5 separate regions of the Homo sapiens genome follow, and all the other regions are linked to region 5. Evidence: fine-mapped expression QTL. A gene starts in region 5. Each other region holds a variant in brackets. All regions are shown on one strand. Distances are from middle to middle. Region 1 overlaps LOC283299 (a long non-coding RNA gene). Region 2 has its middle 13 kb from the start of OR5P3. Region 3 overlaps LOC107984307 (a long non-coding RNA gene). Region 4 overlaps LOC283299 (a long non-coding RNA gene). Region 5 holds the start of OVCH2 (ovochymase 2).

Evidence for each region. PIP is the estimated chance that this variant, and not a neighbour inherited with it, causes the effect.
Region 1: its variant is the best candidate, but not a certain one, in a credible set for the expression of OVCH2 in sun-exposed skin (GTEx, PIP 0.89).
Region 2: its variant is the best candidate, but not a certain one, in a credible set for the expression of OVCH2 in lung (TOPMed, PIP 0.62).
Region 3: its variant is the best candidate, but not a certain one, in a credible set for the expression of OVCH2 in prostate (GTEx, PIP 0.73).
Region 4: its variant is the best candidate, but not a certain one, in a credible set for the expression of OVCH2 in fibroblasts (GTEx, PIP 0.50).

The regions. Positions count from the first base shown.
Region 1 is chr11:7,867,479-7,873,936 of GRCh38, forward strand. The region is part of intron 6 of LOC283299 (a long non-coding RNA gene); the gene reads right to left. Among named protein-coding and RNA genes, the nearest start is that of OR5P3, 40 kb to the left of the region's middle. The variant C/G (reference allele first, on the strand shown) is at 3,954.
Region 2 is chr11:7,814,814-7,821,271 of GRCh38, forward strand. No RefSeq gene overlaps it. Among named protein-coding and RNA genes, the nearest start is that of OR5P3, 13 kb to the right of the region's middle. The variant G/A (reference allele first, on the strand shown) is at 3,254.
Region 3 is chr11:7,910,998-7,917,455 of GRCh38, forward strand. It overlaps LOC107984307 (a long non-coding RNA gene), which reads left to right. Exons shown (of 3, transcript XR_001748116.2): 3 at 1,060-1,162. Among named protein-coding and RNA genes, the nearest start is that of OR10A6, 17 kb to the right of the region's middle. RefSeq lists an enhancer at 1,301-1,801. The variant G/A (reference allele first, on the strand shown) is at 2,929.
Region 4 is chr11:7,878,889-7,885,346 of GRCh38, forward strand. It overlaps LOC283299 (a long non-coding RNA gene), which reads right to left. Exons shown (of 8, transcript NR_036678.1): 2 at 3,972-4,045; 3 at 3,068-3,185; 4 at 2,201-2,261; 5 at 707-871; 6 at 119-195. Among named protein-coding and RNA genes, the nearest start is that of OR10A6, 49 kb to the right of the region's middle. The variant A/G (reference allele first, on the strand shown) is at 3,801.
Region 5 is chr11:7,703,178-7,709,635 of GRCh38, forward strand. It overlaps OVCH2 (ovochymase 2), which reads right to left and starts at 3,300. Exons shown (of 16, transcript NM_198185.7): 1 at 3,130-3,300; 2 at 1,388-1,497; 3 at 521-612. The coding sequence starts at 3,217. LOC105376533 (a long non-coding RNA gene) reads left to right here. Exons shown (of 11, transcript XR_007062576.1): 7 at 2,418-2,478; 8 at 3,048-3,101; 9 at 6,224-6,360.

The sequences.
Region 1 (6,458 bases), 160 kb after region 5:
GGATTCTCCTGCCTCAACCTCCCGAGTAGCTAGGACTACAGGCCCCTGCCACCACGCCCAGCTAATATTTTGTATTTTTAGTAGAGATGGGGTTTCACCATGTTAGCCAGGACAGACTCGATCTCCTGACCTCATGACCCGCCCGCCTCAGCCTCCCAAAGTGCTGGGATTACAGGCGTGAGCCAGCGCGCCCAGCCAGGTTTTAAAAAAAATTATGAATTACTTACATGCTATATTTTTGCCATCACTTTATTGCTAAAATTTATCAGTTATTTTGCTTTAGTTGAGTCCCTTGTAAACACCTTATATTTAAATTTTACTTTTGATATAATTTGAGAATATTCATCTTTTAATTCAAATCTAAATTATTCACATTTATTTTTATAAATATGGCATTTGGTCAAACTTTATCATCATATTTTTCTATTAGTATGTTTTCATTTTCCTAATTTTACACTTTTTTGCTTTTTCTTTTTTCTAACTTTGCGCTAGTGATTATCTTTCCTTCATATTTTACTTGCTAGTTACTGGTTATCTGTGATTTTTTTTGAAAAAGGGTGTCACCCAGGCTAGAGTGCAGTGGTATAATCATGGCTCACTGCAGATTCAACCTCACAGGTTCAAGTGATCCTCTCACCTCAGCCTCCTGAGTAGCTGGGACTACAGACGCGCGCCACCACTCCTAGGTAATTTTAAAAATTTTTGGCTGGGCACGGTGGCTCACGCCTGTAATCCCAGCACACTGGGAGGCCGAGGCGGGCAGATCATGAGGTCAGGAGATCAAGAACATCCTGGCTAGCATGGTGAAACCTCGTCTCTACTAAAAATACAAAAAAAAATTAGCCGGATGTGGTGGCGGGCACCTGTAGTCCCAGCTACTCGGGAGGCTGAGGCAGGAGAATGGCCTGAACCCGGGAGGCGGAGCTTGCAGTGAGCCGAGATCGCGCCACTGCACTCCAGCCTGGGTGACAGAGTGAGACTCTGTCTCAAAAAAACAAACAAACAAAAAAATTTTTAGAGATAGGGTCTCACTATGTCACCCTGCCTGGTCTTGAACTTCTGGGTTCCAGCGATCCTCCTGCCTCAGCCTCCTAAAGTGCTGGGGTTACAGGCGTAAGACACCTCACCCAGCCTGTGATTTTAAACATTGCATTTGAATTTGAATCACTTTCCAGAATACATCATGATTTTTACATACACCCTATAAAAGAAACAGTTTATCACACGTTTGCCTCCTCACTTATCTCCCTATAACCCCAAGTCCCAATGATCTGAATATTTTAGATTCATATCACAATTTTTTTTAACAATGCATCTTCTCTTTTAAAAATCACAGATGGGCTGGGCACAGTGGCTCACGCTTGTAATCCCAGCAGTTTGGGAGGCCTAGGTGGGTGGATTACCTGAAGTCAGGAGTTCAAGACCAGCCTGGCTAATGAGGTGAAACCCCATCTCTACTAAAAATACAAAACTTAGCCAGGTGTTGTGCTGCGCACCTGTAGTCCAAGTTACTCAGGAGGCTGAGGCAGGAGAATTGTTTGAACCTGGGAGGCAGAGGTTGCAGTGAGCCAAGACTGCACCACTGCACTCCAGCCTGGGTGACAGAATGAGACTCCATCCCAACAACAATGACAAAAATCACTTATGAACCTATATGTTATTTCAAAATCACATGAACAGGAATTATTTAAACAATTATTTCAGAGGAGTTATTATTTATCACCTTTTCTTTCTACCACATCTTTCACTTTCTTGAGTCAATCCTTTTTTCTAAATATTTTCTTTAATTTTGTTTTTGTCTGACATTCAATGAGCCTTTCTAACCTGAAGATACGAAGTTTTCATTAGCTCAGGAAACATTTATTTTATTTATTTGTATCATTGATTCCCCTAACTGTTCTGTTCTTTCCTTCTAAAAGAAAAAAAATTTCAGGAACATTTACTCTAGATTTCAATTTTGCTCCAACATTTATTACTGTCTTGAGAACCTCTATGACAATTTAGGTCAAGGGACAATTTATTCAAAAAAGAACAAACCATCTACAAATTCTCTTATCATGTGAGCCTCACTCCCATTCCGCATCCAGTGTGGTTTCCCACAAAGATGTTTGGAGAAGAGAATCAATGGAGGTGGAAATCTTTGGTCCAGCAGTTGGATGAGTCACAGGACCTTTTGGCCCATCTATTTGTTTCAGAAGGAACAAGCATAATATGTGTGTGCAGATTTCAACACTACATGGACAATAGCACAGCTGTTATTGTTGTGTATTCTTCTGCAAGAGGCCATGAACCCAAAAGCCTTGTGGTGAGGGGTTAAGACTAAGATTTTATTTCTTCTTTGTTAGTTGTTCTTTGTTTAGTTTCTTCTTTGTGCTTAAAAATATATGAAGTCATTACATGTGAAAAAAATAGATGTACATTATTTTAAGGTCCCATTCTGTAAAACGTGGTACAAATATGCATTAAATGAGAGACCTCAGTATAATTTAACTATCAGTGTTCAAGTTCAGTTTTTTCAACTCTGTATCTCCTCATTCTTGATTTAATATTTGGTTCATTTCTTGCCAAAATAATTATGTCTTTGAATAACTTTCAATGAAATGTGCATAAATAATTCATTTTCAGAGGCCGTATTTAAGTGAGACTATATCTATTCTCTTATCACATAAATTGCTGGCTCATAAACATTTCCCACAAAGTTCTTTAGACTTCTTGAAACTATTTGATTTCTGTCCCTTGTGAAATTCAAAAACTTCACCAATCTGCCTCCATGTGGGTCTCTTCTCATTATTATTTTTGCCTGAAATACAGGGAATATTCTCATTCTATAGAATCACATTTTTTTAGTTTATGAAATTTTCTTTAATCTATTATGGCTTCTGATTCACAGTAAATAAATGCTTCCTCAGAGATGCCTATTATCTGTATGTTGGATCTTCAGACTCTGTACTCCTTATTTTTCATCATCTCTCTTTCATCATTTTTTGCTCATATTACTTTCTGCATTGTGGAAGAGTCTCTCAACTTTGTGTATCTAGCACTAATTCAATAATATGCAATACCCATGTTTCACTTTCACATAATTAAATAAGTTTAATTATGATCTTTTTAGATTGCTTTTATTATTCTTTCTCTGTTTTAGTCAACCAGTCATTTCACCATTTCATTTCATCTACCATCTCCCCACTAAGATTTTTTTTTTTTTTTTTTTTTTTTTTTTTTGAGACAGAGTCTTGCTCTGTTGCCCAGGCTGGAGTGCAGTGGTGTGATCTTGGCTCACTGCAAGTTCCACCTCCTGGGTTCACACCATTCTCCTGCCTTGGCCTCCCGAGTAGCTAGGACTACAGGCGCCTGCCACCACGCCCAGCTAATTATTTTGTATTTTTAGTAGAGACGGGGTTTCACAGTATTAGCCAGGATGGTCTCGATCTCCTGACCTCGTGATCTGCCCACCTCGGCCTCCCAAAGTGCTGGGATTACAGGCTTGAGCCACCACACCCGGCCAAGATTTTTTATTTTTATCTTTCATGTATTGTTTCATTTAACAATGTTTTGGATTTTTATAAATAAAATGTATGTTGTTTCTAGTATGTTTTATTTTCTTATCATAAAATTTAGTATTTATATTTCTGTGTCTTCAGTAATTAGCCTTACCTAGTCCCTGTACCAATGAAAAAATAGAATGTGTCCATCCACCTCTATTTCTGCAGCACTGCTCTGTGAGTCATGCTGAATACTATTCTTATTTCTGACTTCCTTTGAAATCCTCTTGAACAGAATTGAGCAAGAGGTGAGGCTAGGAAGGGGTGCAGTAATAATGATGGTAGCCACCATGCATTTAGAGTGCTCTAGGCAGAAGCAGACAGGAATGATAGAATTTTATGTGACTCATCTCCTCACAGAAAGTCAATGCAGTGTGAAGAAAATAAAGTTAAATAGAGTAAATATAAACA[C/G]AGTCAACAGTGTTAAGCCTTTTTAAGCAGAAAAACCCTATTTTTAAAATAAAAATGTCACATAGATTTCCAATAAGAAGAAAAGGAAAAAAGCACACTTAACAATAATTCTTCCATGAACATAAAAGTCACACAAGTTGTATCTGAAACTTGCACTCCATTCCTGTGCCCTACCAGGGTTAAGTCAAAGTATCATGGAGATAAGTATGGAAATAAGGGCCCTCTCCAATCAGAGCTGTCCTCAGAAAAACTGCATAATTATTAATGCTATTATTATTATGCATATTTATTATTAAACCTAGGAAATGAAAAACAAACTGCACATTCAACTCAGAAAGCAAGAAGAACAAAATATATAAAAGTCAAAGTAAGAAGTTATGATAAGAAGAAGAAAACTAGTTAGAAAAACAGGAGTATAATAGGATATACAACTAGTTCTAAAGGCTGGGCCTTCTATTTTAAAACTCATTAAACAGGAAAATCTCCAAAAAATCTAATTAAGAAAAATGCAAAAATTTAAAGACACAATATTAGAAATAAGAAAAAAGCTGTATAGCAGCTACTGAAACTTTAAGAAGTATATAAGAACACAGTACTTAGCACTTGCACTGTGCATAATCACTATTAAAAATAGCAGAAGTGTGGGAGATGTGGAAGTTTTATTTACAAGATTTCCAAATTCGTTCTTTGAGACTAACATAGCCTTGATGTCACAGCCAGAAACACACACACACAAAAACTATAACCCAATATCAGTTGTGAAGATAAAGCCAAAAGTTCTAAGTCCAACACGTGCCATTTGAATTCAATACATTATGTATTAAACAGTCCACACCATGACCAGGTAAGGTTTATTTCAGAGGGTCAGATATGAATAGAAACTATGTCAATTAATTAATTCTACTAAGGAAGAAAAACGAGAAAACATGTTAATTTTAGACTTGAAGCAATAAAAGCATTCTCAAAATGTAAGAAAAAAAGAAAGGCTGTGACCATGATCACAGCCATCAAGCAACATGATCTGGGAGAGGCTAGCTATTGCCTATGATGAAAAACTAATATTATCTTATTTTTATGAATCATAACAAGTAATACAAGGTTATTGTTTTAAAATATTAAACAAATAAATGATATAGACTTCCACAACTCACTTTCTGGAGATAACCACTATTGAACCACTATACATGAAAATATTCATGTATTCTCTTCCAGGGTATTTTTGTTCCTCAAACTTTTAATTGCATCAATAAATATGTGGTTATAGAAACTAAAATATTTTAACAATACATTGAGATAAAAAGTAAAAATCCCTCTTACTCCTCCCTGCTATTACTTACCTCATGGAAACAAGAGTTCACAATTTGATATGCATACTTCTGAAACTCTTCTGCATTTCATATATAGGATATGCAAATATTATCTTTCTTAAATATTTGAGATCTATGATCTATAAATATGTATATATACATATACAAATAACATATATATGCACACATATTATATGTATATATATTTCTCTGCCTTGCTTTTTTCACTTAAATTTAAATCTGAACTCTTTATGCAGCTGAATTAGAGAAGCCCAGCTGGATTTATGACCTAGCAGGTCTTTTGACAGTGCAAAGGCTTCCCCTGCAGGTCTTACTATAGAGAACACAGAATACATTATCTGGTTCGAAGAGAGAATAAATAAATGACTAGTCCAGTCTCTTCTGATCTCACCAATCAGATAAGTCATCACTCTTTTCATGTCTTCACATGTCATTGTGAGATGAAGAGAAGTGTGGAAACCATTTTCCCCTACTTCTTAAAGGGTGAATATTTCTGTTTCTAGGGCCAAAGCAGGAAGGTAGGGAGAGGAACTAAGATAATTCCAACCACACGGGACATAGAATATAGCACAGAAGTACTACAATTTATTTAATCATTTGCCTATTAACATTTTTTGTTACAAATATTGCCATAATAAACAGTAGGATAATGAATGCTTCTGGAATAAGACTGCTAAAAGTAGAATTGCTGGATCACAGAGCATATACACTTTTATTTTTATATATTGTTTTATATTTTAATTCTAAAACCAAAACATGAATATGGCTTTAAAAGTTCCAAAAGTACAGCAGAGTAGAAAAATTGAAAACCATTATCTCCCTTTAAAATTTCTATTGGCCACCATAAAAACTCCAACATTTATTATACCACTATTTTCCTGATTTATCAATCTAAGATCTTAGTTGCTGCCTCCCAGCTATAAAAGATAAAAAGGCAGTACATTTAAACTATGATCCATCTTCTCTCACACCAAAGCCAAAATCCATTCTCAATATCTCTCTCTGAAGTATATAAAGGATGTGATACTAAAGGTTATGTAAATGCCCAACAGACTGTCTAGAAACAAATGCATATCAAGGCTTATCATTGTGAAACTTCTGACAAAGGAGGCAGAAAATGGATTTTGCTAGATTCCAGAGAGAGGAAAATAAATACCACAAGCTTTATTAGCAATGA
Region 2 (6,458 bases), 110 kb after region 5:
GAATGGGAGAAAATTTTTGCAATCTACCCATCTGACAAAGGGCTAGTATCCAGAATCTACAAAGAACTTAAACAAATTTACAAGAAAAAAAAACAACCGCATCAAAAAGTAGGCAAAAGATAGGAACAGACACTTCTCAAAAGAAGACATTTATGCAGCCAACAGACACATGAAAAAATGCTCATCATCACTGGCCATCAGAGAAATGCAAATCAAAACCACAATAAGATACCATCTCACACCAGTTAGAATGGTGATCATTAAAAAGTCAGGTAACAACAAGTGCTGGAGAGGACGTGGAGAAATAGGAATGCTTTTACACTGTTGGTGGGAGTGTAAACTAGTTCAACCATTGTGGAAGACAGTGTGGTGATTCCTCAAGGATCTAGAAGTAGAAATACCATTTGACCCAGCCATCCCATTACTGGGTATATACCCAAAGGACTGTAAATCATGCTACTATAAAGACACATGCACATGTATGTTTATTGTGGCACTATTCACAATAGCAAAGACTTGGAACCAACCCAAATGTCCATCAATGATAGACTGGATTAAGAAAATGTGGCACATATACACCTGGAATACTATACAGCCATAGAAAACGATGAGTTCATGTCCTTTGCAGGGACATGGATGAGGCTGGAAACCATTATTCTGAGCAAACTATCGCAAGGACAGAAAACCAAACACTGCATGTTCTCACTCATAGGTGGGACTTGAACAATGAGAACACTTGGACAAAGGGCAGGGAACATCATACACAGGGGCCTGTCATGGGAGCGGGAAGGGATGGCATTAGGAGAAATATCTAATGTAAATGACAAGTTAATGGGTGCAGCACACCAACATGGCACATGTATACATAAGTAACAAACCTGCATGTTGTACACATGTACTCTAGAACATAAAGTATAATAAAAAAATTAAAAAATAAAAATAAAAAAAGAAAATACACAGAGGAGATATTAGGTTGGTGCAAAAGTAATTGTGGCATTCTTATAGAATATACAAAATAGCCTCAAAAGGACAAATCTAAGAGTTATTGGCCTTAAACAGGGGGTAGAGAAACAGATAGGGGAAGAAAGTTTATTCAAAGGGATAAGAACAGAGAACTTCCCAAAACTAGAGAAAGCTATCAGCATTCAAGTACAAGAAGATTATAGAACACCAAGCAGATTTAATCCAAAAATGACTACCTTAAGTCATTTAATAATGAAACTACCAAAGGTCAAGGATAAAGAAAGGATTCAAAAAGCATCAACAGAAAAAAAAAATAACTTACAATGGAGTTCTAACATGTCTGGCAGTAGACTTTTCAGTGGAAAAGGCTAGGAGAGAGCAGCATGACATATTTGAAGTGCTGAAGTAAAAAAAAAAAAAAGGTTACCTTGCAATAGCATATCTGGTGAAAACATCTTCAAACACGAAGAAGAAATAAAGACTTTCCCAGCAAACAATAGCTGAGGGATTTCATCAACAGCAGACCTGCACTACAAGAAATGCTAATGGGAGTACTTCAAGCAGAAATAAAAGGACGTACATGAGCACTAAATAATCACCTGAAGGTACTAAACTCACTGGTAGTAACTACACAGAAAAACACAGAATATTATAACACTGTAATCATGGTATGTAACTACTCATACCTTAGTAGAAAAACAAAATGATGAACCAATTAAAAATAATAACTGCAACAACTTTTCAAGACATAGACAATAAAGTATAAATAAAAACAACAAAAAAATTAAAAAGCAGGGGAGATGAAGCTAAACTGTTTATTGGTTTTCTTTTTGTTTATTTGTTTATGAAAACAGTATTAAGTTGTTATGAGCTTAAAATAATGGGTAATTACAAGCCTCATGGCAACCTCAAACCAAAAAACATATTATAGATATACAAAAAAAAGCAAGAGAATAAATTATATCACCAGAGATAATCACCTTCATTATAAGGAAGACAGGAAGACAGAAAAGAAGGAAGAGAGGACCACAAAACAACCAGAAAACAAATAACATAATGGCAAGAGCAAGGCCTTACCTATCAATAATAACATTGAATGTAGTGGACTAAACTCTCCAATCAAAAGGCGTAGGCTGACCAAATGTATGAAAGAACAAGACCCATTGGTCTGTTTCTGCCAAGAAACACACCTTACCTATAAAAACACACATAGACTGAAAACAAAGGGATGGAAAAAGTATTCCATGACAATGGAAACCCAAAAAACACCAGGAGTCACTATATTTATATCAGACAAAATAGATTTCAAAACAAAAACTGTAGGAGACAAAGTGTCACTATATAGTGATAAAGAGGTCAATTCAGAAAGTGGATTATAGCAATATTAAATATACATGCATCCAACACTGGAGCACCCAGATATATAAAGGAAATATTATTAGAGCTAAAAAGAGAAATAGACTCAATACAATAATAGCTGGAGACTTCAATACCCCAATATGCCTGATGAATATTGATGCAAAAATCCTGAACAAAATACTAGCAAATCAAATTCAACAACACATTTTTTAAAAATCATTCATCATGACTAAGTAGGATTTGTCACAGGGATGCAAGGATGGTTCAACATACGCAAATCAATCCAATGTGGTACATCATATTAACAAAATGAAGGACAAAAACCATATAATAATTTCAACTGATGCTGAAAAAGCATTTTATAAAATTCAACATCCCTTCATCATAAAAACATTTAAAAAAACTATAGAAGGAGCATACCTCAACATAATAAAATCCATATATGACAGACCCACAACAAGTGTCATACTGAATGGGTAAAAACTGAAAGCCTTTCCTTTAAGACCTAGAACATCACAAAGATGGCCACTTTCACCACTGTTATTCAACATAGTACTGGAAGTTGTAGCTAGAGCAAACAAGAGAAAAATATAAAGGGCATCCAAATCAGAAAGAAAGAAGTCAAATTATCATTATTTGCAGATAATATAATCTTATATTTGGAAAAATCAAATGACTCCACCAAAAAAACTATTAGAGCTGATAAACAATTTCAGTTAAGTTGCACAATACAAGATCAACATTTTAAAAATCAGTAGCATTTCTATATGCCAACAGTGAATAATATAAAAAAGAAATAAAGAACAGAATCCAATTCACAACAGTCACAAATAAAATTAAATAACTAGGAACTAACCAAAGAAGTGACAGATATCTACAAAGAAAACTGTTAAACACTGATGAAATAAATTGAAAAGGACACAAAAAATGG[G/A]AAGATATTCCATGCTTGTGGATTAGAAGAATCAATACTGTTAAACGGTCCATACTACTCAAAGCAGTTTACAGATCCAGTGCAATCTCTATCAAAATACCAATGACATTCTTCACAGAAATAGAAAACACAATCCTAAAACTTATATGGAACCAGAAAAGAGCCCAAGTAGCCAAAACTCTCATAGGCAGAAAGGACAAAACTGGAGGAATCACATTACCTGACTTCAAATTATGCTACACGGCTATAGTGAACAAAACAGCATGATACTGGCATAAAAATGGATGCATACACCAATGGAACAGAAAAGAGAACCCATAAACAAATCCACACACCTATAGTAAACTCATTTTTGACAAAGGTGCAAAGAACATACACTGAGGAAGAGAGAACGTACACTGGGGAAAAGACAGTCTCTTCAATAAATCATGCTGGGAAAACTGGATTTCCACATGCAGAAGAATGAAACTGACCCCTGTTTCTCTATATATACAAAAATAAAATCAAAACGGATCAAAGACCTAACTCTAAGACCTCAAATTATTAAACCACTACAAGAAAACATTAGACAAAGTCCCCAGAACATTGGTCTGGACAAAAATTTCTTGAGCAATACCCCACAAGCACAGGCAACCAAAGCAAAAATGGGCAAATGGGATCACCTCAAGTTAAAAAGCTTCTGCACAGCAGATGATACAATAAACAAAGTGAAGAGACAACACACAGAATGGGAGAAAATATTTGCAAACTACCCCTCTGACAAGGGATTAATAACCAGAATACATAAGGAGCTCAAACAACTCTTTAGGAAAATATCCAGTTTTTAAAATGGGCAAAAGATTTGAATAGACATTTCTCAAATGAAGACATACAAATGGCAAACAGACATATGAAAATGTATTCAACATCATTTGTCATCAGAGAAATGCAAATCAAAACTACAATGATATATCATTTCACCCCAGTTAAAATGGCTTTTATCTAAAAGATGCAATAACAAATGCTGGCGAGGATGTGGAGAAAAGGGAAACCTCGTACACAGTTGGTGGGAATGTAAGTGAGTACAAGCACTATGGAGAACAGTGTGGAGGTTCCTCAAGAATAGAATTACCATATGATCCAGCAGTCTCACTGCTGGGTATATACCCCAAAGAAAGAAAATCAGTATATCAAAGATATCTGTACTCCCATGTTTGTTGCAGTAATGTTCACAATAGCCAAGATTTGGAAGCAACCTAACTGTCCATCAACAGATGAATGGATAAAGAAAATGTACATAGACACAATGTAGTACTATTTGGCCGTAAGAAAGAATGAGGCCCTGTCATTTGCAACAATGTTAATGGAACTGCAGAGCATCATGTTAAGTGAAATAATCCAGGTACAGAAAGACAAATATCACATGTTCTCACTTATTTGTGTGATATAAACATCAAAACAATTGAACTAATTGAGATAGAGAGTAGAAGGATGGTTATTAGAGGTTGAGAAAGGCAGTAGAGGGTTGGAGGGGAAGTGAAGATGGTTAATTGGTACAAAAAAATAGAATTAATGAATAAAACCTAGCATTTGCTAGCACAACAGGGCGACTACAATCGATAATATTTTAATCATACATTTTAAAATAACTAAAAGAGTATAATTGGGTTGTTTGTAATACAGAGGACAAGTGTTTGAGCGGATGGATACCCCATTCTCTATCATGTAATTATTACACATTGCATGCCTGTATCAAAACATCTCCTATACCCCATAAATATATACACCTACTGTGTACCCATAAAAATTTAAAAAATTTTAAAAGGAAATAAAACTTTTGCTTTTATTTTGTTTTTCCATCAATATTGTTAAAAAATCTCTAGTATTGATAATTTATTTTTATTTTATTATTTTCTACATAAACGGTCATCTTGTATGATACTTTATTTCTTTTTTTCTATTGTTATGCCTTCTATTTCCTTTTCTTGTTATAGTGCCCTGGCTAGTGTCATCCATACCACGAAGAATAGAAATGCTAACAATGGCATCTCTTTCTCATTCTCAGACATGAAGGAAAAGCTTTCAAAACATGAGTAGTTTTTCCCAGATGAAGTAATTACACTATTTCAATTTTGCTAAGGCTTTTTAAACACAAATTGATGATAAAAATTATCAAAGTCTTTTTTGAATCAGTGGCTGTCATGTTTTTTTTCAAGAAAAAATAATATTTTTATTCTATTCTTTTTTATACTTTAAGTTCTGGGGTACATGTGCAGAACATGCAGTTTTGTTACATAGGTACACATGTGCCATAGTGGTTTGCTGCACCCATCAACCTGTCATCTACATTAGGTGTTTCTCCTGATGCTATCCCTTCCCTGGTCCCCCATCCCCTGACAGGCCCTGGTGTGTGATGTTCTCTTCCCTGTGTCCATGTGTTCTCATTGTTCAACTCCCACTTATGAGTGAGAACATGTGGTGTTTGGTTTTCTGTTCTTGTGTTAGTTTGCTGAGAATGATGGTTTCCAGCCTCATCCATGTCTCTGCAAAGGACATGAACTCATCCTTTTTTATGGCTGCATAGTATTCCATGGTGTATATGTGCCACATTTTCTTAATCCAGTCTATCATTGATGGACATTTGGGTTGGTTCCGTGTCTTTGCTATTGTGAATAGTGCCGCAATAAACATACATGTGCATGTGTCTTTATAGCAGCACGATTTATAGTCCTTTGGGTATATACTCAGTAATGGGATTGCTGGGTCAAATGGTATTTCTACTTCTAGATCCTTGAGGAATCACCACACTGTCTTCCACAATAGTTGAACTAATTTATACTCCCACCAGCAGTGTAAAAGTGTTCCTATTTCTCCACATCCTCTCCAGCATCTGTTGTTTCCTGACTTTTTTTTTTTTTTTTTTTTTTGAGATGGAGTTTTGCTCTGTCCACCAGGCTGCAGTGCAGTGGTGCGATCTCGGCTCACTGCAAGCTCTGCCTCCCAGGTTCACGGCATTCTCCTCCCTCAGCCTCCCGAGTAGCTGGGACTACAGGTGCCCGCAACCACGCCCGGCTAATTTCTTATATTTTTAGTAGAGACGGGGTTTCACCATGTTAGCCAGGATGGTCTCAATCTCCTGACCTCGTGATCTGCCCACCTCAGCCTACCAAAGTGCTGGGATTACAGGTGTGAGCCACTGCACCCAGCCTTCCTGACTTTTTAATGA
Region 3 (6,458 bases), 210 kb after region 5:
ATAAATGAAAGGCTATGAAAAGAGGTATAATAGAAAAAATAACAACAGTATTATACTAAAATATCTGATTATTTTCACAAACCTGGGAATGATAGCTGGGGAAAACAAGAAAATGCTTGCTTAAAGCCTTACCAATTAAAGGAATTACATAAAGGTTCTGCTCTCCAACCCAGACAAACCACAAAATAGCAAATGTTGAAACTCAACATCTGTTAAGTGATTATCATATGCCAGGCATAGCTCTAAGTACTTTACATTTATTATTAAATAACTCCTTTAATAAGTCTCAAATATTTAAACTATCCTGTAGGACAGGGCTACTGCAAGTGTAATTCTGGATCAGCAAGGACTAAGAGCTTGTTAGAAATGCAAGTTTTTGGGCCCCACCCCAGACCAACTGAATCCAAATCTCTGGGGAGGTGTCCATGAATCTGTTTTAATCAGCTCTCCAGGTGATGCTTTTGCACCCTAAAATTTGAGAAGCACACATCTCCTCAGTTAACGTGCTAGGATGAACTGGTATATTTCAAATGCATTAAAAGTTTACCAGGAAATAATGATCTTCTTAGACTTCTGAGAGCCCAGGCAACACCTGAAGCAACCAGAGTCCCAGAACATTGTCACTGTCCTCTCTGTGGGCTTCTCAGAAACTGGCTGAAACAGACGTGTGTCTGATGGGACCCTCTGTTCCCCACAGACAGTGAGCACTGTAAGTGATGTCTGGCATCACCACTCTGCCGGAAGCCACTGAGTGAAGGCTAGGAGATGCTTTAAACAATGTGCTGCTGCCTTGGTGGCTAAGAGGTTCCAGGTGCCCAGAGGAGTGCAGCATACACGCAATAATGTAGCTCATTCAGAGAATCAGAGTGGGCAGTTATCAGTTAGGGGCCTCTTGTGGGCACAGCTCTAGAAGGTGGCCCCAAATCTCTGCCTTTACATAGTCTTATGCTCATTTCCGTCTTAACTACCTGGTAGCAACTGTTCTTGCTTTGCATGTGCGTGCTGCAGAATAGCACTTCCTTATGATGAAAGAAAAACTTAAGTACATTTCAATTTTAGAGAGTTTATCGGAGCATTCAGAGATTCAAGAATTGGGGCAGCACCAGACCACAAGGGGCTATCACTCCATCAAGAAAGGCAAGAGGGGAAACTTTCATGCGCGTCCGTGTGAAGAGACCACCAAACAGGGTTTGTGTGAGCAACATGGCTGTTTATTTCACCTGGGTGCAGGCGGGCTGAGTCCGAAAAGAGAGTCAACAAAGGGAGATAAGGGTGGGGCCGTTTTATAGGATTTGGGTAGGTAAAGGAAAATTACAGTCAAAGGGGGTTTGTTCTCTGGCGGGCAGGAGTGGGGGTCGAAAGGTGCTCAGTGGGGGTGCTTTTTGAGCCAGGATGAGCCAGGAAAAGGACTTTCACAAAGTAATGTCATCACTTAAGGCAAGGACTGGCCATTTACCCTTCTTTTGTGGTGGGATGTCATCAGTTAAGGTGGGGCAGGGCATATTCACTTCTTTTGTGATTCTTCAGTTACTTCAGGCCATCTGGGCATATACGTGCAAGTCACAGGGGATGCGATGGCTTGGCTTGGGCTCAGAGGCTTGACATTCCTGCCTTCTTATATTAATAAGAAAAATAAAATAGTGTTGAAGTGCTGGGGCGGTGAAAATTTTTTGGGGGGTGGTATGGAGAGAGAGTGGGCGATGTTTCTCAGGGCTGCTTCAAGCGGGATTGGGGCGGCGTGGGAACCTAGAGTGGGAGAGATTAAGCTGAAGGGAGGTCTTGTGGTAAGGGGTGATATTGCGGGGATGTTAGAAGAAACATTTGTCGTATAGAATGATTGGTGATGGCCTGGATACAGTTTTGTATGAATTGAAAAACTAAATGGAATAACAGAAGGAGAAAAACAGGTATAAAAGGTCTAAGAATTGGGACGACTCAGGATAGCTGACTAGAGAGTGCCTAAGGAGATTCAGCATAGTCCTGCCAGCAAAGATTATTTATTTACTTCAAGAGTTAAGAGTGGCAGTTTGGGGATAGCACCAGGAGATATCAGCTGTGATGGCTTGGAAAAACAGTGTAAACCGGCAGTGTAAACAAGAGCAGGACATGTATGAGTAGTTGAGAATGGTGAATAGGAGTATGACTAGACAGAAGATAGTAGGGATGACAAGTTTTTTTGGGGGCACAGTCTAAGTTGGTCTGGTGTCTGGAATGAGACTGGGGCCTAACAAAAAGGAGAGTCTATACAGGAGCTTAAATGGGCTGTACCCTGTAGCATTCCGAGGACAGGCCTGAATTCTGAGAAGGAAAAGTGGTAAAAGTATTGTTCAGTCCTTTTTAAGTTGGTGGCTGAGCTTGGTGAGGTGTGTTTTTAAAAGACCTTTAGTCCATTCTACTTTTCTTGAAGATGGAGGACTGTAAGGGATATAAAGGTTTCACTGAATACTAAGAGCCTGAAAAACTGCTTGGCTGATTTGACTAATAAAGGCTCATCTGTTATCAGACTGTATTGAGGTGGGAAGGCTAAACTGAGGAATTATGTCTGACAGAAGGGAAGAAATGACTGCGGTGGCCTTCTCAGACCCTGTAGGAAAGGCCTTTACTTATTCAGTGAAAGTGTCTATTTAGACTAAGAGGTATTTTAGTTTCCAGACTCGGGCATGTTGAGTAAAGCTAATTTGCCAGTCCTGGGTGGGGGCAAATCCTTGAACTTGATGTGTAGGGAAGGGAGGGGGCCTGAATAATCCCTGAGGAGTAGCAGAATAGCAGATGGAACACTGAGAAGTTATTTCCTTGAGGATAGATTTCCATGATGGAAAGGAAATGAGAGGTTCTAAGCGGCAGGCTAGTGGCTTGTACTATAGCATAACCTGCCTTTGCTGGTGTGCAGCGATTAGGCTCGGTGGAACCATCATCAATAAATCAAGC[G/A]TGATCAGGGTGAGGAACAGGAAAGAAGGAAATCTGGGGAAATGGGGTGAATGTCAGGTGGATCAGAGAGATACAGTCATGGGGGTCAGGTGTGGTATCAGGAATAATGTGGGAGGCTGGATTGAAGTCTGGGCCAGGAACAACGGTAATTGTGGGAGACTCAACAAAGAGTGAGTACAGCTGAAGGAGCCGGGAAGCAGAAAGTATATGCATCAGGTATGAGGAAGAAAATAGATTTTTGAAGTTATGAGAACTGTAGAGAGTGAGTTGAGCATAGTTTGTGATTTTGAGGGCCTCTAAAAGTATTAAAGCAGCGGCAGCCGCTGCACGCAGACATGAGGGCTAGGCTAAAACAGTAAGGTCAAGTTGGACAGAAAGGCTACAGGGTATGGTCCTGGCTCTTGTGTAAGAATTCTGACCGCACTAACCATGCCTACGAAGGAAAGAAGTTGTTGTTTTGTAGAAGGAGCTTGGATTTGAGAGATCAGTCGGACACGATTGGCAGGGACAGCACGTGTGTTTTTATGAGAATTATGCCGAGATAGGTAACAGATGAGGAAGAAATTTGGGCTTGATTGAAGCAATGGGGGCTGTCTGTGAAGCTTTGCTGCAGTACAGCCTAGGTAATTTGCTGAGCTTGATGAGTGTCGGGGTCAGTCCAAGTGAAAGCGAAGAGAGGCTGGGATGAAGGGTGAAAAGGAATAGTAAAGAAAGCATGTTTGAGATCCAGAACAGAATAATGGGTTGTAGAGGCAGGTATTGAGGATAGGAGAGTATATGGGTTTGGCACCACAGGGTGGATAGGCAAAACAATTTGGTTGATAAGGCGCAGATCCTGAACTAACTTCTAAGGCGTGTCTGGTTTTAGGACAGGTAAAATGGGGGAATTGTAAGGAGAGTTTATAGGCTTTAAAAGGCCATGCTGTAGCAGGCGAGTGATAACAGGCTTCAATCTTTTTAAAGCATGCTGTGGGATGGGATATTGGTGTTGAGTGGGGTAAGGGTGATTAGGTTTCAATGAGATGGTAAGGGGTGCATGATCGGTCACCAAGGAGGGAGTAGAGGTATCTTATACTTGTGGGTTAAGGTAGGGGGATACAAGAGGAGGACGCAAAGAGGCTTTGGATTGGGAAGAAGGGTGGCAATGAGATATAGCTGTAGTCCAGGAATAGTCAGGGAAGCAGATAATTTAGTTAAAGTGTCTCAGCCTAATAAGGGAACTGGGCAGGTGGGGATAACTAAAAAGGAGTGCTTAAAAGAGTATTGTCTAAGCTGGCACCAGAGTTGGGGAGTTTTAAGAGGTTTAGAAGCCTGGCCGTCAACACTCACAACAGTTATGGAGGCAAGGGAAACAGGCCCTTGAAAAGAAGGTAATGTGGAGTGGGTAGCCTCCGTACTGATTAAGAAGGGGATGGGCTTATCTTCCACTGTGAGAGTTACCTGAAGCTCAGCGTCCGTGATGGTCTGGGGGCTTCTGAGGTGATCAGGCAGTGTCAGTCTTCAGCCGCTAAGCCGAGAAGATCTGGGAAGGAGTCAGTCAGAGAGCCTTGGGCGAGAGTTCCAGGGCTCTGGGAGTGGCTGCCAGGTGAGTTGAACAGTCCATTTTCAGTGGGGTCCCACACAGATGGGACGCAGCTTAGGAGGAATCTCAGGCTGCGGGCATTCCCTGGCCCAGTGGCCAGATTTCTGGCACGTGTAGCAAGCTCCTGTGGGAGGAGGTTCTGGAGGAATGCCTGGCCACTGCGGTTCAGGTGTTTGGAAGTTCTTGTGTGCTGGAGATGTGGCTGGGGTTTGTCTCACAGTGGAGGCAAGGAGTTGCAACTTTTTTCTGTTATTGTACACCTTGAAGGTGAGGTTAATTAAATCCTGTTGTGGGGTTTGAGGGCCGGAATTTAATTTTTGGAGTTTTATTTAATGTCGGGAGCAGATTGGGTAATAAAATGTGTTTTGAGAATAAGACGGCCTTTTGACCTTTTAGGGTCTAGGGCTGTAAAGTGTCTCAGGGTTGCTGCCAAACAAGTCATGAACTGGGCTGGATTTTTATATTTGATGAAAAAGAGCCTAAACGCTATCTGGTTTGGGATAAAGAAAAAGGAGCATTAACCTTGACTGTGCCTTTAGCTCTAGCCACCTTTTTAAGAGTAAATTGCTGGGCAGGAGGGGGAGGGCTAGTCATGGAACGAAACTGTAAGCCGGACCAGGTGTGAGAAGGGGCAATGATAAAAAGATTCTAGGGTGGAGGAGCAGAGGCTGAGGAAGAATAGGGACCTAGCTCGGCCTGGCGAGGAGCAGCCTGGGGAGGAAGGGAGAGGTCAGATGGGTCTGTAGAAAAGGAAGATTAGAAAGACTCAGAGACACTTGGGGTTGGTACTGAGGGGACAGGCAGGAGGGAAAGAAGGAAGATTTGGGATGAGTTGCACTGGGCACAGAGACTAGGAAGGCCCTGTTGTGTAAAAGAATGCCTGGATGTCAGGCACCTCAGACCGTTTGCCTATTTTATGACAAGAATTATTTAGATCTTGTAGGATGGAAAAATTCAAAGTGCCATTTTCTGGCTATTTGGAACTACTGTCGAGTTTGTATTGGGGTCAGGCGGCATTGCAGAAGAAAATAAGGCATTTAGGTTTTAGGTCAGGTGTGAGTTGAAGAGGTTATAAGTTTTTGAGAACACAGGCCAAGGGAGTAGAAGGAGGAATGGAGGGTGGAAGGTTGCCCATAGTGAAGGAAGCAAGCCTAGAGAAAAGAGAGAGTAGAGAAACGGAGGGAAGGGGTTTGGGGGTTCTTACCTTCCAAAAAAGTGGGAAAAGGGGTTGGGGCACAGAGATAAGAGGTCGGAGCATGGAAATAAGGGATTGGGGTGCAGAAATGAGGGATTGGGGCACAGAGATATGAGGTTGGGGCACGGAAATAAGGGATTGGGGCACAGAGATATGAGGTTGGGGTGTGGAAATAAGGGATTGGGGCACAGAGATAAGAGGTTGGGGTGTGGAAATAAGGGATTGAGGGTTCTTGCCCCATAGAAAAGTGGGACTTGCCACTAAGGGTGAAGGAGAAGGGGTTGAGGGGTACTTGCCCCTGCCCCAGAAAAGCGGGACTTGCCGCTAAGGGTGAAGGACCAAGGCAGGCATCCCTGCGTGGTCTGACACCCTTGAAACGTGAGTGTATAATCAGAGAGGCATCCCTGCAATCATTAAACACCAAGGGAAGGCTGCCTTCCCAGTCCGTGACTGGCCCCGGAGTTTTGGGTCCCCGGATAAAATGTGTCTCCTTTGTCTCTCCCAGAAAATGAAAGGAATTGAAATTAAGAGAAGGGAGAGATTGAAGAGTGGAAAGGAGAAAGTGGTTGAGGGACAGTGAGAGAGGTTGGAGAAGAGAGTAAGAAGAGGCCGCTTACCTGATTTGAAATTGGTGAGATGTTTCTTGGGCTGGTCGGTCTGAGGACCTGAGGTCCTAGGTGGATCTTTCTCATGGAGCAAAGAACAGGAGGACTGGGGATTGATCTCCCAAGGGAGGTCCCCCGATCCGAGTCA
Region 4 (6,458 bases), 180 kb after region 5:
TTTTAGTCTGAGGTTGAGGAAAGTTTAAAATGCTTTCGTATTAGTCCATTCTCACATTGCTACAAAGAAATACCTGAGACTGAGTAATTTACAAAGAAAAGAGGCTTAATTGACTCACAGTTCTGTGGGCTGTTCAGGAAGCATAGCGGCATCTGCTTGTCTTCTGGAGAGGCCCCAGGAAACTTACAGTTATGGCTGAAGGCAAAGAGGGAGCAGACATGTCACTTGGGCAGAGCAGGAGGAAGAGGGTGGGGGACAGGAAGGTGCTACACACTTTTTTAAACAACCATATCTTATGAAGACTCACTCACTATCCCGAGGACAGTATCAAGAGGATGGTGCTAAATCAGTCATGAAAAATCCCACCCCCGTTATCCAATCACCTCCCACCAGGCCCTACCACCAACACTGGGGATTACAATTTGACATGAGACTTGGTGGGAACACGGATCCAAACCATACAAGCTTTTAAGTCTATCAGGATCCAAGAGAGGTCCCTAGTTTAGTATCAAGTATCTGAAATATTTGACATTCCTTGGTAAATTGGAATTTTCTCTGGAAACTTTATGGCCTTTGTCTGCTAGAATTTTAAGGATATAAACGCTATCATGTTCACAAGCCTCTTTACAAGGAAAACAAAGGTTATCAACCTACTGAGAGTTGACCCTTGGGGAAAATAAATGTCCGTTAAATCTGTCTTCAGTACCTGTGAAAAGTGAGAGGGGCCTTCAGTACATCCTCGAGGCATTTCTGTCCAGGTATGTTGTTGTCCTTTCCACGTGCAGCAAATAAAAATTGTCTCTCAGTGTCCACCAGAACCAGTGCCTTTAAAAAGCACTACAAATGTCTATCACTGTGAAAAATTTACTTTCTGTGGAGATGAAAGTCAGGAAGGTACATAGATTTGTAACGACAGTGTCGAATAATGATATCGTTATCAATGGCTCTTAGGGCCTGTGCAAATCTCCACCATTGCCAAGAGGTTTCTTTACAGGAAAAACAAAAGTATTACAGGAGCTAGGAAAAAGCGGTACAAGCTTCTCACCGTGTGAAAGAAAATGAAGTAATTAAGGCTAAGGCTTTAAAGTGGAGACAGGAGATTGCAAGGGGATTGCACTCACACCTGCTAAAGGATTACAGAATGTTCCAGCTGACTTGGATAACAACTGAATTCAGTGTCTGCAGCCCTTCAACATCTCTCAGCTGGGAGTATCCTAATTAACCAATCAGAATGGGTTTGTATTTTAGGATTTCTGCCTAGCCAATGAACTGCCTCAAAAATTAACTTTTTGTGGAAGTCACCTAGAAATAAAAGTATAGATCAATGAAACAGAACAGACCCAGACAACAGACCAAAGTATATCTAGGAGCTAAAAATAAGATAAAAGAAGTATTTCAAGTTATTGCAGAAAAGATGTTATTCAAAAGTGGTGTAAGACTAGACTATTCTTTTGGTAAAAAAAAATACTGGATATCTAGCTTATACCACAGCCAAATGTAAATGTGTCCGTGGGAAAAATTGGAAAATGTGTTTTAATGAACTTTAGGTTGGATAGATTTTTCTGCAGATGACACCAAGAACACGATTCAAAATGAAAATGGTGACATATTTGATCCCATACATGTTTTAAATATTTGTATGAGATATTGGAAAGAAACTGTAAGGTAACTAAAAAATACTTGAAATCTATTCAATTCAATCTAGTATTTATATTATATAAAAAGTACTCACAAACAAAAAAATCCAATTTAAAATATATATAAATATTACATATTATATAATATAAATATATAAATATAGGATATATATTTTAATGGGCTGTATACATACATAAATTCATTTAAAATAAAATACATATAGGATAAAGGGCTCAACTTTATTCATGATCAAAATAATGCAAACAAAATAATAGCGATATATTAATTTTTACCTATCAGGTTAGCCAAGATTTAAAATGTAAGCATAAACCCCCCCCCCATTGCTAGCAAGGCTAAGGAGGAAAGGGAAATTTCATACATAGTAGGAGTAAAATGTTTCTGGAGGGAAACCTGGCAACATTTAGAGAAGTTAAAAATATAATTTTCTTTTATAAAAAGAATTGCACTCATAAGAATTTATTTTAAGAAATAAATCATGTAAGTGCAAGGATATTCATTTGCGTATTCTGTATAATAGTGGAAAAAATTGGAAACCACTTACTTGCTCATCCAAAGGAGGATGTGTAAGTAAATCCAGGACCATTCATATCATGAGATACTATCTGTAGTTGCATAGAAAAAATGCCCATGGTCGTCTATTAAATTACAAATAAAAGGATTCAAAACAGTATATATAAGATAATTTAATTTCTATAAGTAAAAATATGTATGCATAAAATTTGCAGGGACTATAAACAAAAAAAGGAAACTGGGAAAGTGTACAACTAGATATTATATCTCTAAGCTGATGGGAGTATGGATATTCTCCTTGTTTTTATTGCTTGTCTGTATTTTCTAGCCTTTTAAAGCATTTATTTCTCTGTTAATTTTCCAAAATAAAAATTTTAAATAGGAAAAAGAACAAAGAAAGAAACTTTTCTTTGCTAGATTTAAAATGTATCCTAACAATAACAAAGTAATAACTAAAACAGTGTAGTGCACTGGCCCAGGAAAATAATAAGCACATAAAGGAAAAGAAATATGATATAAATATTTATAAACACATATAGATGAATATATTTTTAAAATATGTGGATATTTCAATAAATTGTGCAATAAATATAGGGTTTTTTTGGAAAAGTCACAAAGTACCAGAAATGTAGGTGAAATTTATAAACCCTTAAGGGTAGGAAAATTCTTTCTAAGCATGGTATCAAAGGCAGAATCATGAAGGTAAAACAGATTTAATGCACAATTTAAAAGTTCTGTGGCCAGACACAGTGGCTCACTGTGCAATTCCAGTACTTTGGGAGGCCAAGGCGGGAGGATTGCTTGAGCCCAAGAGTTTGAGACCAGCTTGGCAATATAGCAAGACCTATCTCTACAAAAAGTAAATAATTGGCCAGTCAAAAGTCATAGTGGCACACACCTGTAGTCCCAGTTACTCATGAGGCTGTGGTACGAAGATCAGTTGAGCCCAGGAGGTCGAGGCTGCAGTGAGCCCTGATTGCAACATTGCACTCCAGCCTCGGAGACAGAGAGAGATCCTGTCTCAGTAAATAAACAAATAAATAAATAAATAACATGTTCTATGTACTTAAAGTATACCCAAATCAAAAATAAAATGAAAGTTTTGAAAAATATTTGTTAAGAAATGAAAAAGACAAATGCTCATAATATATAGTTTTCACAGAATAAAAATGTAGCTATGATTATATCTCTATTGCCTAGTGTTTTTCACATCCACAGTCCACATCAGAAAACAGCAATCCTGGGTTGATTCTTCTGCCTCAGGTACTATAATTTTCAATATATTGCATATAAAACACACCCTGTATCCCGGCCCCAACTGAGTGGAACAAGCACCAGTGTGTGCTCTGGTTATCCTTTTTCTGACCTGGTAACAATCTTTTCTTGCCCTTCGCTGATCAACTCTGCTCTGTGCCCCAGTGGGCTGCACACACGCATGCGCACACACACACACACACCACACACACTGCACCACCCAGGCTCTTAGATCTCTGCATTCTGGTTGGGTCTAGCCGATTGAAAGCACCAGCGAAAGGTTGGAAGTGTGGGAAGAGAGGTTAGGGGATGTAGTCTCTGGTTTCCTCCCTGCTCCCCCTTGCACTGTGGTTCTGGCAGTGTCTAGTGCCTCTACC[A/G]TTAGTGCTCTAACCAGGCAACCCCCTGCCACACGTCCGCCACTCAGGTGACACTAATTCCTTATCACCATTTCAAGCCTAGGGTCTTAATGGCTTTATTTTTAGTTAATGTTGTTACTAGTCTCTGAGTGCCTCAACATCCCTCATGATTCCCCTTAATTCTGCCCATACCTTGGTAAACAGCCTCTTCATTAAATTCTCTCCAAAATCTCCACGAGTTCACCTTCATTTCCTATAGTCCCTGCCTGAGAAAGTGGATGAACGCAATGCTATCAAAAATTGGCAAGGAACTGCAACCTCCTCTGAGTTGGCTTAGTAAGATTGTATACCTAATCAGAATGATCCCCATTAAGATGACGCATCTCCCTATTTATATCTCCTTTAGGTGAACTCAGAGGAAGTGGGTCACTGAGTTCCAGCTGTATCTGGATGACCCTAAACTCTTGTAACTCTCTATGATGCCAATGCACTGGAAGCCCTGGGAGTCATAGGGGGCTTGTTGTTATAACCCAGATTTCAACAGGCTTTTCTAACTCCTTGAGACCTAGAAAAGTCTCTGAAATTTTAGCCAACATCAGACTTATGAGACTATAAATATTGGAACAAAACAGGTAAATTATCATTACTTCCTGATGATGCTCATGAAGCCCAAGAAAATCAACTAAAAAGAATACTATGTATAAATAATTTTTCCATAGCTGACTAGTTCCATATTTGTCATAAATTATTTTTTATTCTTGATTTTTCCCTCTTCCTAATGTCCCATTGTAATGGGATCTTTGGGGTGTCACTCTTCTGGCCAGAAACCTCTGTGGCTGGCTGGTGACACCTTTGCCCAAGTTCTTGTCCTATGTCCAGAAAGAATGAGGTATGCAAACAAGTGGAAGTTGAACAAGATGAAGAGGAGCTTTATTGAGTGTTATGACAGCTCAGAGGAGACCCACAGAGGGTAGCTCCTCTCTGTAGGCAGGTAGTCCTGTCAAGTGTTCAGCTCTCAGCAGAGAGGAGGGCCTGGAGAAGGTAGCTCCTCTCTGCAGGCAGGTAGTCCTGTCAAGTGTTCAGCTCTCAGCAGAGAGGAGGGCCTGGAGAAGGTAGCTCCTCTCTGCAACTGGTCATCCTGATATCTGCAGCTCTCAGCAGAGGAGGCCCTGGAGAGGGTGGCTCCTCTCTGCTGGCAGGTCATCCTGTGATCTCTACAGCTCTCAGCAGAGAGGGTAGCTCCTCTCTGCAGCTGGTCATCTCATTATCTCCAACTCTCAGCAGAGACAGTATCTCCTCTCTGCGGCTGATCATCCAGTCCTCTCTCCATCCTCTGCTGGCTCTTGCTGAGCCCGTGGCTTTTATGGACCTCAGAGGGGAGGAAGTGTGTGTTGATTGGTCCATGGCGGCCATGGGTGGCAGGTCCTGGAAAAGGCACCAGAAGCCCCCACTCCAGTTTGCGGGACTGGCGGCCCAGCCCCCAGAATTCAGGCCCTCCCTGGCCTGAAGGTGGGGCCTTACTGGGACTGCCCTCTTCTGCCCAGGAACCTGTTTGCCTCCTGCTGCCATTCATGGTGCCAAAGCTCACCCAGACTTCTCTAAGATCTGAGCAGGTACCAACAGCAGGGGAGAAGCCAGGCAGGCAGTGGGAGCAGGCACTTCTGAGTCTACAAGGGCAGGGGTCCTTCTCAGCCCCCAAGAGTTCAGGGATGCAGGGAAAGGGGGAGGGTCTGGCTCCTGCTCCTGCTCCTGCTGCACGAAGTGGGAGGCCCGGATCTGTAGCCACTGATCCGGTTGTTGCAGCTGCACCTGGGAGGGTGGGGCTCCTGCCTGTTCCATGAAGCAGGAGGCCCAGGTCTACAGCTGCAGTGTGGGTAGCTGCAGGGCACCCTGGGAGCTCCAACCCCAACTCGGAACAGGCAGGGCTCCCGCTTGTCCAAGGATCCCGCCAGCTCCATGGAGCATGCAGCCCTGGCAATGCCTCCCTGCTGCTGCCATCACCATGACCTATCAGTCACTAAGTGAGCAATTCTATGTGATATTTCTTGAAATTCTCCATCTGACTCCATTTTTATTTTGACTGCCCAGACTATCCAGGGTCAACAGCAGTCAAGGCCTCTTTGCCATGGCAGCAACCCATGAGTCAGCCAAGATGAGCAGACAGGCTGCCTGAAGAGCCCACCGGGACAGGGGCTTCTGAGCTCCACTCAGAAGTGGAGCAGGTAAATGATCAAGGTGGCAGCAGGTAAATGATCAAGTGAACTGATTCATGAACATTAAAATGAAGCAGAAAACACTAGATGTGTGTGTGTGTGTGAATGCATGTGGGTGAGTGTGTGCTTAACTTTAGATCCCAATAGGGACACGTGCTTTTCAAATGCTTATGACACACACAAATTGGCCATAGATTCAGCTGCAAAGAAGTTTTTAATAGATTTCCAAAGATAGAAGTCATATAGAGTACAGTGTTTATCGAAATAAATTAAAACTGAAAATGATAACAGAAAATAGAAAAAAAAATTCTAAGCACTTAAAAATGAATACCTCTTATAAATATCTTGAGTTTTTAAATATATTCCTTTTATGGCATAACTAGAAATGGATCACTATCATCAAAGGAATGCATTGTATATCACTATTTGTCCAAAGTGGTAAACTGAAGAAAACTTGTAGCCTTAA
Region 5 (6,458 bases):
AGTATACGCCCAGAACACTGTCAATAATAGGATATTTGGATCACACAAGAAAGTGGGTAAAGGGAAGTTGTTGGGTTGAGTCCCAGAGAGGCAGGATCAATGGGAAGGAAGACAGGGAGCCTACTTTCTACTTTACTGGTCTCCCTTTGTTTTCTTTTATCCATTTCTTCAGATGCATAATGAACTAGATATTTTTTCACTGAAATTTAAGAAAACTAGAAGAAAACTTTCACAAATCCTTCTTTGTAATGCTCTTTTTTTTCTGACTTGGATGCTATTATTAACTTCCAGTTATTTTAAGTAAAAACGAATTTTACCTCTGAAAAGAATATATGTCATCTACCAAGTGCCATCTGACAATGTCACCCAGCCCCATTTGTGTCATGCAATTAGGATATTCATCTGTTAAACCAATACTCACCTATCACACAGGTCCATGTTTTAATAGGGTTATTGCTGATGATTCCAAGGGAGAAGAAATGGTGGTGTGGTCTTCACTCATGGGCTAGGCCTTTCTTACCTGTTTGCAATGCAGTGAGCCGCCGTGATCACCCACTGTGGTGAGACGATGCTTCCTCCACAAATATGCTTCTGCCTTTGTTTCAGAGATACCTAAATTGCAAATACCTTAAATGAAAGCAAGTTCATGCCCTGGGATCCCCCTAAACACGGTGATGAAGCCTATTCTCAAAACCAGACTCAGATATCACACTCGTAAATGTCAAGAATCGTGGACTGTGAAAAGATAAAGCCCAGACACTACCGCTCAGAAAGAAGAGTGGTGCTGGCAACCCTGGTCTAGATGAGAGGTAGTTAATTTGAGATGACTGGCTGTAAGTATGTGTCAACAGAGGTAGCAGTTAGAAGTGGTGAGATGTATTTACTTATTTTTATAACACAGTTGATGCAGACCTGTTGCTCTAACAATATGAACAGTGTCTGTGAATGAAGGTAAAATAGTATAAGATATTGCAGAGTCCAGCTGAAGAGGTTTGGAAGAAAGGCAAGGTGAGGGCTGGGGAGCCTTTCAACACATACTCCTATTTCTCTAAGCCTCTTAGGGAAATGGTTTGGATCTACCACTTTTCTCATACTCTTAACTATTTGACCCCTATAGCTTCTTCAAGCCTATTCTTTACCCTACCTCTCCAATATACTTTCTAATTTTTGCTTATCCTATTTGTGATACTTGATTTGATTCTAAAATGACTTACTATGTACAAGTAAATACTTTTTCTTATGACATTCATCACATGCCATGATGACTATTCTGTCTTTCAACCCAACTAGGCTGTAGGCTCCTCAAAGATATAAACTTAACCTTAAAAATATCTATATCCATAATATCTAGCACAGTTCTTGATGCATAGAAGTCCTTGAGACTCACCTGCCAGGGATAGGAACCCTTCTCCACTTGGCTTCCTCCAAGAATGCGACTGAAAATGTTAAAATAATTCCAAGGCTGTACCTTAACCAGACTCTGCCCACAACTGGGAGCTGAGAAAAAAACGAGACAAACTAAATGATTAGATAGCTTCTAGGATTGAGGTAATATCTTCTCCATTTCACCCATGAAACTGAGTCTGAGACTATGGTGTATGGTGCTCAGCACACATTCAGATATCAATAAATCTTTATTGGATTTAATTCTCTTGAGGGATGAAAAGTGACAGGTCATTTAAGGAGAGTGGAGTGAAGTGTCCTGATTCACAAGTTGGTACTCGGATAGAGGTTTGCTAGGTAATAGAAGAAAAAACTCCTCCCTCTTTATGTAAAATACTTTATCCCTGAAAAAGTTGTTTTTATTTATTTGCCCTCAATGGGTTTTCTGACTCCTCAGCAAAGAGGTAGACTAGATTAAAGATGTTTAACATCACCTGGTAACTCAAGGATGGCACATCTTCTGTCCCTCCTGGAGGTCATCCTTTTCCATATTTTGAAGGAGGATTAGAACTAGCCTTGCTTCATAATCACCATGCTTCATTGCCTACCTAAATTCTGTAATTCTTATTCCTCAGCTTGGAGATCACCTCAACCAGGAAGTCTTCCTTGATTTCCTCAAAGTGGGATTGCCTCTCCCTTGTGTTGTGTAGCACGCTTTCTTCACCCCTTTTATAGTTCTTGTCATGCAGAATTGTGATAATGAATTATTTGCCTCTATCATCGGACTATGAACTACTCAAGGGAAAAAACTTGCCTTATTCACCTCTGCATTTCTAAGGTTTAGCTTAATTCTTGGCATAAGTAAGCACTTAGAAACACTGGATGGACAAACAAATGACTTTTCTTGAGAACACATCCTTAAGAGTATAGCTATTTAGATCAACATGTTAAAATATTCAAAGCTCTTTCATACAGCTTCTCATTTAATCCCACTCTATGCCTATAAATGAAGCACTGTTATCCCCACATTGCAGATGAGAAAACTGAGAATCAAGGAGACACACAGCTGGATAATGGCAGAGCATGAATGTAACAGTAAGTGTTTTGATCCTGAACCCAGTGCCAGGATGACATTGGAACAAAAGCTTATTTTCTAACTGTTTCAGTTGAATGAGTCATAAATACTTTAAATACAAAATTTACTATTTCCCAAATTCAGTAAAGCAAAGTCAGAAAACATGTTGATTCTCAGGGTTGGCACAAGTCTGACCAAGGAGAAATCTTCCAAGAACTGTTTTCAGCTTAAGTTAGTTGAAGGGGAAAAAAGACCATTTATAATATACTACAGTGAACATGCTTCATATTTCTCAGCAAGATGATTTTGTAAAAGATTAAAAATGCTTCCAAATCCATGCTGATTTCCAGAATTTGCTCTATGAACCAAGATGGGATTATGTAATGGGTTCAAGTAAGTGAACAATCTCAGTTCACTTAGGAAAACTAAGCGAAGAAAACAGGGATTGTTTACTTAATTGGATACATTAGTTGCATTCTATAAATGTTTCACCCTGTGTCCTATGCCGATTGCAGGAGATAAGTCCAAAATAATTGTTTAAAAACAATTAGATATCCAAAATATATTTGCTTCTCCTATTTTCCCAAAGGAACATGGAGTCTCGGAGTTGTGACGTCCATTGCCAGCAAAGGTTCAGACAAAGGTAATTATAGAGTTCATTTGAAACTTACCTTTGGGGAGCGAAAGAGTTGCAGATTTACCTCGTTCAAAAAAGACTATTCCTAGTAGTAAAATCAGCTTGTTCCTGCTTATAAGCATTTTGAGACTCATAGTTTTTCCCTGAAATTTTAGAGAGACTAAAGCAAACAAAAATAGGAAGCCTTGAGAGACCAGCAATAAGCCAATTTAAAACAAGTTTATTCATTAACCAAGACGTGGTGAATCAAGCATGTCCATCTGATGTTTCTGAATGTAGTGTTTCGCAAAGATCTTTTGGAAGATGTGGAGAAACAACCACAGAAGCAGAGTCTTGATCAAGCAATATTACATATCCTATTACACCTACACCAATTAGTTGATTCCTCCAGAGTGTATCTGGCTAGCAAAGTGGTTAGCATGTAAGATTTGCATCTGCAAACATTACTTGCTCCTTTGTAGAGCTTACCACTTTTACCACTTTCTATAAGAAGATTGACTATCAATGTTGTCCTTGTTTGCAAGGGTACACTTCCCTACTTTTTTGCAAACGACCCATCCAAATGTATATAATTTTTTTGGGCAGAGATGGAGTTTCATCATGTTGCCCAGGCTGATCTCAAACTCCTGGGCTCAAGGGATCTGCCTGCCTTGCCCTCCCAAAGGTCTGGGATTACAAGTGTGAGCCACCACGCCCAGCCAATATTCTAAAATATTTTTATTTATCTTATTTTGCAAATGTAACTACATGGTTATTATAAACATATGTTGGTGAATGAGAGAAGTGGAAAGATATTTGGGTGTCACACTCAGGAAGCCCTGCTGTTAGAAAGTCATCTAGGATACTGTACATTGGGGCATTTGTGACTCTGCATTCTCCTATCATTTTTGTATTTATAGAAGGGAAACACTAAATCTCCTTTACTTCTATGCCTGGTAGATGCTTGGGAGAGTAAAGTGGCTATGATTACCTGTACATTTTCCTCTTTCCTCAACGAGTTTTGGGCACATGGTCAGTGTGTGAGAAATATTTATAGGATGGTCAATGCCATCTATGACCAGATAGAAATATAACATTTTTCTGTCAACTTTTATAAGTTACCCACTAAAAATAACAAATGTCAGCCCAAAAGCTCTTAATTTCCTTTTGGCAACTTTTGTCTTTGTACAAAAAAGTATGAAAATACAACACATACAAATAATATAAATGCAAAACAGAGAAGGTGTAAAAACTTAACATTTGTAAGCACTACATATTTAGGTACACTAATCAAGAATGTAGCCTTATGGAAAGAAGGAAACTCAAACCTCTATTGAGGCTTTATCTATAACTACTGTAATCCTGATGCCAAACATTTTTGGCTATTGGTATGGAGTGATAGCCCCAAGAGGTAATCAATCAATGTCTAAGCCCTAATCAAAGTCTCAATCTTTCTTTGACAGCAAGCTCCCTTTAAATTGCTATTGTGTTTTATCAATCACTTTTGAGAGCAACTTGACTAGGAATATGGCCTTTCTGACCCCAAATTCACTACATTCTGTCTAAAATGTGTATACTGTTAATGTCAAAAGTGCAGAAAGACCTAGTGTGGGCCTAGGATGCACTAAACTTGACAAGCCTAAAGTAGGCACATAGCATAGGACAATAAAATTTGACTCTATACTGAAAGAATGATGAGTTTTCCTTTGTAAAATGTGGGAGTGGAGCGTTTTTATTGATTGTCACACAGAAATATGATGAGCTCTTGCTTAGTGCTTAATTTCAGGAGAGGGTATTTGCTTCAAGCTCTTGCATCAGCACAACTATCAGTACACATCAACACACTCTTCACCACATGAAGCTGGTCATTAAGAGTTTGTTACTTTCATCTCTTAAGGGGCTAAAATGTGGCCCCCTTGCTGTTAAAATATTTGCTCTTCATGGGGGATGTAGCAGGTTCTAAGACACTATATTTTTGTAAGTCCAGCTATTCAACCCTCCCAGGGTCTGGATAGGAATTATAATAACTGTACATTGTAGTTACTTGCAGACAGGAATATATTAAAGTGTTGCTTGGCATGGTAGTATAAAATCAATTTTTCATTCATGAAACTATTAAACCTTTTAAAGGGGAAAAAATCTCTCTTGAGAATCTTGGACCAAAGTCTGCACCAAACATGGATTTGGAATTCAAATACATTGTTTTCCCTGTCTGTAAATCCCCAAGTTGAGAAATTAGTATCAAAATTTCTCCTGAAAGCAAAACTGTCTCTCTTCACAGATGATATGATTCTATACCTAGAAAATCTCAGGTCTACCTGTTATAACCTTCTTCTCTCTTTTTTGCAGCAATTATTTTTGTTGAAAGAATTGGTTATTTAGACCTTTAGCATTTTCTACATTCTGTATTTTGCTGATTGCAGAGCTGTGACTTTAATGTGTTCCTATAACCCTGTGATATAATCCATAGCTAATGATTATAACTTCTGTATTGTACCCTCCAATGAAAAGAGAACAACTCCAGTATGAGCAATCTCTCTCTGTCTTTTCAGATTTTTCTGTCAAAACCTTTCACCTTCTGACAGACCTCAGAACACTCCAACTTTGTTGCTGTGTCTTCCTGGGTCAATCCACACATTTGAGGTTCAATAAACCTTTATAGATTTTTTTCTGTCTTGACAGCCTCAATTTTGGTCAACAGTGCCATAAACACTCATCACCAGGAATGTTCTCAGCCACCTCCAGTGGCCCAGAGAAAGTAACAGAATGTACTGTCTGGTAGAGAGTCCCAGGAGTTGGGTTTCTGGACCTGTCTGCTTCTCATTCTCCCTGAAGTTTCCAGCCACCTGGAATTGCCCTGCCCCATGGGCCCAAATACCCCCTCACATCTCCCTCCCAGGGGAAAACACCAACTGGTTCTTACTTGGAATAAATTGGAGTGGGTCTACTCCAGAACTTTTTCAGCAGTTTTCTCCTAACAGGCATGTTAGGTTGTGGTTCTTTCCTTAATTGAATTCCATCTACTTTTTATCGTTCTAGAAATATTCATAATTTGGGGCCACTAAAAGTAGCTTTCCTTGTTCAGGTTTTCCAGCACTGCTATGAGTTCATTTGTTTAATACATCCTTCTTATCATAAATTTGGAGCAGGAGCAGGAGGACACACCGTATGGTCTCAGGCTGCCAACTTAATCCAATCGCTAAGTGGGAACCACTGAATCCTCCTTTATAAACACCTTGCATATTCCCTGTTGCAACTAAGAGATGACACTAAAGGTACATGCAAGGTAAGTTGAAGTGTAAAATAATTAAGAACAATCTGAGAATGCCTCAAGGATAATCAAAAACAATAAGGGTATTTTTAAAAATAAATTTTAAAAGGGAA